2 linked regions of the Homo sapiens genome follow. The protein of the gene in region 2 purifies or fractionates together with the protein of the main gene of each other region. This does not show direct contact. Each region holds a gene or a part of one and is shown on either strand. Other genes may lie near its edges.

Region 1 (3,653 bases), about 28 Mb from region 2:
ATCCCAGCTACTTGGGAGGCTGAGGCAGGGAGAATTGCTTGAACCTCAGAGGCGGAGGTTGCAGTGAGTTGAGATCATGTCACTGCACTCCAGCCTCGGCAACAGTGAGACTGTCTCAAAAAAAAAAAAAATTTTTTTTTTTTTTTTTTTAAAGATTTTAAGTGATTTTTTAAGGCCGGGCACGGTGGCTCATGCCTATAATCCCAAGACTTTGGGAGGCCAAGGCAGGTGGATCACCTGAGGTCAGGAGTTCGAGAACAGCCTGGACAACATGGTGAAACCCTGTCTCTACTAAAAATAACAAAAATTAGCTGGGCATGGTGTGGCGGGCCTCTGTAATCCTAGCTACTCGGGAGGCTGAGGCAGGAGAATCACTTGAACCTGGGAAGTGGAGGTTGCAGTGATCCCAGATTGCGCCACTGCACTCCAGCCTGGGTGACAGAGAGAGACTCTGTCTCCAAAAAAACAAATTAAAAAAAAAGTGATTTTTAATGTCTATAGTTCTCTATATAGACATCTAAAAAAGGCTTTCAATGTGAAGTGCTTTATGTCATAGAAATTAGGATTTTTGTAGTGCATGAATTGTATGCTTATAGGCCTTTTCTTAACCTGGCATTTCTAATCTTTGTTTACTGTTGTTATTCTTGGGTTGGGATACTACTGTCAAACTATTATGAAGTAATTGAAAGTATACATATCTCTATATAGAATATCAATAATGTTAAATTTCAGGACAAAGGAAATGGTTAAAAACGTTTGTTCAGGTAGGTTAAAAGAAAGTCAACCTAGAACTAGTGGATATTACTTTATATCTAAAAGAGATAATTATTTCTTTTCAAAAAGGATATGCCAGTGATGATTATAGTCTTTAACAGCAGTAGCTTGTGAGAGTATTAAAATGTTTCTTCTTTTATAATTCATTCTACGTTAAAAAAATGAATTAAAATGTATGCAAAGTGTACTTTTTCAAGTCAGTGAAGAATATGGCCAGAAGCAGCAGTTTACATTAGCTTTATAACTTAATACTATAAGCTTTAACATTGACCTATTTAAATGAATTTTTGTTATTAAAAATGCACCTCAAGTATATAATTAAAATATTTACCCTTAAATAAAACTATAGTAATTTTGGAAACATCTGTCATGTATTATGTATGACACTTCTGTCAACAGTGATTGGAATATGTGTCCCCTCTGTTTGAAGCTAGGTAAGCTTTTGTGATGAATAAATACTGTGATGGTGTTGCTGGATTTCTACCTGTTCCCGTCTCTGTTGGGACACGAGAGTCCTAAACTACCATGTAAAAGATCTGCCTACTCGGTGGTTGCCATAGTAATGAGTAATCACACACACAGAAATGTTGGAGAAGCTCCAGCTTTGAATCTTCCCAGCCTAGACATCAACGAGACTTGTCAATGAACAAGCCTTCAGATGATTTCAGCCCCAGCCCCAGCCCCATTTGACTGCAGCCACATGGGAGACCCCGGTTGAGCCCTGGAACCATGAGCCATAATGAAAGGTGTTACCATTTTAAGTCAAGTTTTAGGGTGATCATCTTATACAGCAGTAGATAATCAGAACATGTATGCATATACCATACCTGTTTTGTTGAAGAAGGAATTTTGTTTTGTGTTCTGGACCAGATTTTATATATATCACATAGCCCAGTCATTAGCAAGAGGGTTGGGGCAGGCAGGTTTTATTAAAGTCCAATAGTTATAAGGAAGGAGAGTCTTCTTACAGGTTGAAAAACTCATAGAAGATTCAAATGTCCTGCTTTTCCTTTCCCCAAAACTGACCTTTTTTAAGTGCCTCTTATCAGAGGTGAAGAATCTTGAACTCAGAAAGACTGGGAATTTCCTGATACCTAAATGCAAGCTATAACCTGCATTTCCTTAACCTCCAAGACTTTTCCCCTTGTATATTATATTCCAGTGTATATATAAGGAGTTTCAGTGATGGAGAAAAGTACTTAAAATTTGGTCATTTGTATTATATCAGGGGTTGGCAAAACTCTTTGTAAAGGGCCAAATAGACTTTGTGGGCTGTAAGTGTTCTCTGACATATTCTTTGCTTTTTTTTTTTTCTTGTTAATAAGCGCCTTAAAAACGTAAAAACCATTCTTGCAGGCCATTCTAAATAGGCAATGGGCCATGTTTATCCTGTAGGTTTTAGTTTGCCAGTTTGTGGTAAAACCACACAGTTTATTGATGTTATGGACTATAATACGGATAAAAGTGTGTACATCATTTAAGTGAGGGTGTTATAGTTGATTTTGAATATTTCAGTAGATTTTAAATGTTGTAATGTTAAAGATATAGAGCTTTCTGGTGCACTAATTTGAAATTTATGTTCTAGTATATATGCCCTTTTAATATTTTGCATTTGTGTTCTTTATACTTTGGTTAAAGTTGCTTTTATTGTTCCCCATCTGATTTAACTGTCAATTTCTAAAGCCGGAACTTCATACTAATATCCATTTGTTACTAGACAAGTGTATTTGGTCAACTGGAACATTTGAGCTTCTCTTTCTTTATCTGCAAAGTAATGAATGATTAAACATGCTCTATTTTATATGATTTGTATATATGATATATTTTAAAAGTGATAAAATTTTAAAAGTGACAAAGTATTTTTAAAAAGTAGTAAGCATTGGTTAATATTTGTTGTCTTGAAAAAGGTTGTAGGTGCTTTCTAAAACTACAACCAGTATCTGAATTTGAATTCGTTAAAACTTTAAAACAGTAATACCCCTTTTTATAGGAAAACCAGGCTTTAAGTGTGTTTGAAACTTAAATTTATTTAAATTAACATTCTGCAAAATTATTTCATTCTGTATTAAATTTAGCATGTCTAAAGTATATAATATAAATGTTCAGGGTTCGGGGATGATATTTCTGAATAAGATCTAGTGATTTTATGAAAAGATTTGTATAGCATTATTTGCCTGTTTCATTGTGATAGTCTTGAAATTTTTTCTTTTTGTCTTCTACAAATGTATTTGATTCTGTGAAGACCTGTTGGATCTACTTTTTTACTGATTAGTGAGCTTTGACCCAGTACTTATTAAACATCTGTAAAACATTGATTTACTTCTATCAGACTATTTTTTTTATAATTTAGAGTCCGAAAATGGTGTTTGCCACCATTCAGATCTTGAAGAAATTTTTCTTAGCAAAAACATGAATCTAGATGATGAGAGAAGCTTTTTTGTTTGACATATCTTGATTTTAAATAAGATTTTTTAAAAGTAAACAAAAATAAAAACCCATATAGCCTGTTTTCATTTTAGAAAAATGATAGAAAGTACATATCAGCATTGGTACCACCCAAAATGATCAATTTTGCTATTCCAGACATAGTAATTTTCAGATATCTTTAGATTGTGTCTGTTTCCAAATGTAAAGGAAAATGATATCTTTTCCATTTCCTATGTAACCTTATCGTTTGTATTAACTATTCTCTTCAGTCACAGATTTCTTTCCCACTTTGGGGAAAATTTGAATCCCATTTAACCTGTTTATAGCCCCCAGGTTAATTAATAGACCTTTCTGTAATTCATGTGGGCTTTGTTTTTTTCCTGAAGCCACAAATGTAATTGTTCTGTCTCATCAGTTTTCATGGCTTTATACTTCCTCTTTGGCACACCTTA
Region 2 (3,653 bases):
CGCCCGGCCAAACAACACTGTTTTAAAATATGTTAGAATTTAAGGCCGGGCACAGTGGCTCACACCTGTAATCCCAGCACTTTAGGAGGCAGACAGATCACTTGAGGTCAGGAGTTCGAGACCAGCCTGGCAAACATGGTGAAACCCCATCTCTACTAAAAATACAAAAATTAACCGGACATGATGGTACGCACCTGTAATACCAGCTACTCAGGAGGCTGAGGCAGATAAATCGCTTGAATCCTGGAGGTGGAGATTGCAGTGAGCCAAGATCATACCACTGCACTCCAGCCTGGATGACAGAGTGAGACTCCATCTAAAAAAAAAAAAAACAGTTAGAATTTAAAAATTAGTCCTGAAATTAAGTTATCATTCAGCATAGGAAAACTATTATACGTAGCAAGCAGAATCTAAGAGCTTCAAGGATGCGCTCTTCCACATCTCCTAGACCAGGGGTCAACAGAGCCGGAGAGTAAATACCTTAGGCTTTATGAGCCACACTGTCTGGGTCTCAACTATTTCGCTTTGCCATTGTAGTATAAAAGCAGCCACACATTATCTTTTCTTTTTTTTTTTTTTAAGGATAGGGTTGTGTTCCAATACAATTTTATTTATAGAAACAAACAGCAGGCCATATTTGGCCCACAGCCATAGCTTGCCAATGCTAATCTAAAGCACATATAATTACAATAAGTTAAGCATTTCATTACATCTTTGAGAGAAGGGTCATGTTAGCTGTACAGTTGTCTTTTTCAAAGTAACTTGAAAATCTTTTCCTTTTCGTTATTGTTGTTGTTGTTTTTGAGACAGGTTCTCACTCTGTTGCCTAGGCTGGAGTGCAGTGGCGCAGTCACAGCTCACTGCAGCCTCAACTTCCTGAGCTCAGGTGATCCTTCCACCTCAGCCTCCCAAATAGCTGGGACTACAGGCACACACCACCATGCCCGGCTAATTTTTGTACTTTTTGTAGAGATGGGGTTTTGCCATGTTGCCCAGGCTGGTCTCGTGCTCCTGAGCTTAAGCAATCTACCTGCCTCAGCCGCCCAAAGTGCCAGAATTACAGGCGTGAGCCACTGAGCCCAGCCTCATTTATCTTTTAATATATCTAAGTGTTTGGCATCTGAATTCATTGAGTAGAGTAGCACACCATATAATTTATTTAATATGGTATATTAAACATGATGATAAGGAGAATAAAACTTGTAGGCCATAAGATTTTCTTGAATGTGTTAACCTGAGTCAGTGTACCTTTTTTTTTTTTTTTTTTTTTTTTTTTTTTTTTTTGAGAAGGAGTTTCACTCTTGTTGCCCAGGCTAGAGTGCAATGGCGCCATCTCAGCACACCACAACTTCCGCCTCCCAGGTTCAAGGGATTCTCCTGCCTTAGCATCCTGAGTAGCTGAGATTACAGGCATGTGCCACCACGCCCAGCTAATTTTGTATTTTTATTAGAGATGGGGTTTCTCCATGTTGGTCAGGCTGGTCTCGAACTCCCAACCTCAGGTGATCCGCCCACCTTAGCCTCCCAAAGTGCTGGGATTACAGGTGTAAGCCACTGTGCCCAGCCCAGTGTATCATTTTTTAATGGCCTCTAATGAAATCCTAGTTTTATCAACTCTAATTTTTGTCTTTTTTGCATCTCTGAACCTTTTCTTTTTTTTAAAGGATTTTGTTTTTACTGTGGTATATTATACATAACATTTTACCATTTTTAAGTGTATGGTTCATTGGCAGGAAGTATATTCACACTGTTGTGCTGCCATCACCACCATCCATCTCCAGACCTTTATTATCCCTAATTAAGACACCCACACCCATGAAGCACTAATTCCCCACTCCTCCCTTTCTCCAGCCCATGGTAACCACTAGTCTACTTTCTGTCTATGAATTTGACTACTCTAGGTACCTTATATAAGTGGAATCATATAATATTTATCCCTTTGTGTCTGGCTTATTTCACTATTAGCATAATGTCTTCAAGGTTCTTCCATATTGTAGCACGTATCAGAATTTTATTCAAGGCTGAATAAGCCGGGCACGGTGGCTCACACGTGTAATCCCAGTATTTTGGGAGACCGAGGCGGGCAGAGCACCTGAGGTCAGGAGTTCAAGACCAGCCTGGCCAACATGGTGAAACCCCACCTGTACTAAAAATACAAAAATTAGCTGGGCGTGGTGGTGTGCGCCTGTAGTCCCAGTTACTTGGGAGGCTGAGGTGAATTGTTTGAACCTGAGAGGTGGAGGTTGCAGTGAGCAGAGACTGCACCACTGCACGCCAGCCTGGGTGACAGAGTGAGACTCTGTCTAAAAAAAAAGCAAAAGAAAAAAGGCTGAATAATACTGCATTGTATATGTATACCACGTTCTGTTTATCATAATCCATTGATCAACATTTGGGTTGCTTCCATCTTTTGGCAACTGTAAATACTGTTGCTGTGAACATCATTATACAAGTATCTATTTGAGTCTTTTGGGTATATACCTAGAAGTGGAATTGCTGGATCAAATGGTAATTCTATGTTTAATTTTTTGAGGAACCACCATACTGTTTTTTACAGCGGCTGTACCATTTTATATTCCTACCAGCACTGCATGAGGGTTTCAATTTCTCCACGTCCTTGCCAATGCTTATTTCCTGTTTTTTGTTGTTTTTATAATAACTATCCTAATGAGTGTGAAGTAGTATCTCATTGTGGTTCTCACTTGTTGGTATGCAATACTTGTAGTTGGTGTAAGAGACACAGCAAATTTGGATATTGCATTAATCAATGTCTGGCTGTAATTAGATATATATGCATGTATGTATGCATTGATTCGTCTCCTCCAAAATTACAACATGGTTTATAAGAACATGTGAACAATAAGATAAATAATACAAACAGCTCAATTCATGTCACTGGGAAAACTGAAAAAATAGAAGAAAACTAAAAAATGAAACTATAACCCAAATTAGATGAACATGAAAGTGTGTTGTAATGTCCCCTACAGTTACTAAAATTGGAGTGAAAAAAATCAATCGTGAACTTCCTAGAGGCCAAAGTAAAAATAAAAACAGGGTCGCTAACATGGTTTGTTTATTACAGAAGATGATAGCATAGGTGAAGAAAGGCTTTTCTTGGCTCATTGATGTAAGAAATAAGCTATCGCTATTTTAAAATATGTAGAGATAATTGTGTTACTGACACCAGCAGATTTCAGACTGAAAGCAAACAGGATTTTTTCTTATATTATTGGGGTTGGAATTGGCAATGACTCCGTAGCCTGACTACTGTAAGACTGTTTTTGTAGGTAGAATAGTAGTTTCAAAGCACAGTTAGGGTGACAGGAAGGCAACTCCACCTATCTCAGCAGAGAGATAAGTTCTATTCCCTTGGACTTTAGTCAGTTAATGTTGTATACAGTACAACAGGTAAGATCTTGAATTGTCTCCTATGTATTTATATATGTACCTGGCATTTCCTGCCTAGGTCACAGATTGTAACTACATGGGTGTTTATGCAAATAGTCCTCTTAAAAATATATCCTTATCTTCCATTTGGAAGAAGGGAAAGGTCTTCATGTTCAGATTTAATGTTGAAATTTCTTGGTTGGGTGTGGTGGCTCATGCCTGTAATCCTAGCACTTTGGGAGGCTGAGGCAGGAGGATTACTTGAG

The links. Proteins that work in one complex are often made in the same cells at the same time.
Region 1: the proteins of RBM47 (region 2) and YTHDC1 purify together in Homo sapiens (affinity purification with mass spectrometry; one large-scale study listed by BioGRID and IntAct). This does not show direct contact.

The regions. Positions count from the first base shown.
Region 1 is NC_000004.12:68,340,022-68,343,674, reverse strand, and holds part of YTHDC1 (YTH domain-containing protein 1), read left to right. Parts: intron 1-3,653. UniProt on the Homo sapiens protein: Regulator of alternative splicing that specifically recognizes and binds N6-methyladenosine (m6A)-containing RNAs.
Region 2 is NC_000004.12:40,441,349-40,445,001, reverse strand, and holds part of RBM47 (RNA-binding protein 47), read left to right. Parts: intron 1-3,653. UniProt on the Homo sapiens protein: Single-stranded RNA-binding protein that functions in a variety of RNA processes, including alternative splicing, RNA stabilization, and RNA editing. Functions as an enzyme-substrate adapter for the cytidine deaminase APOBEC1.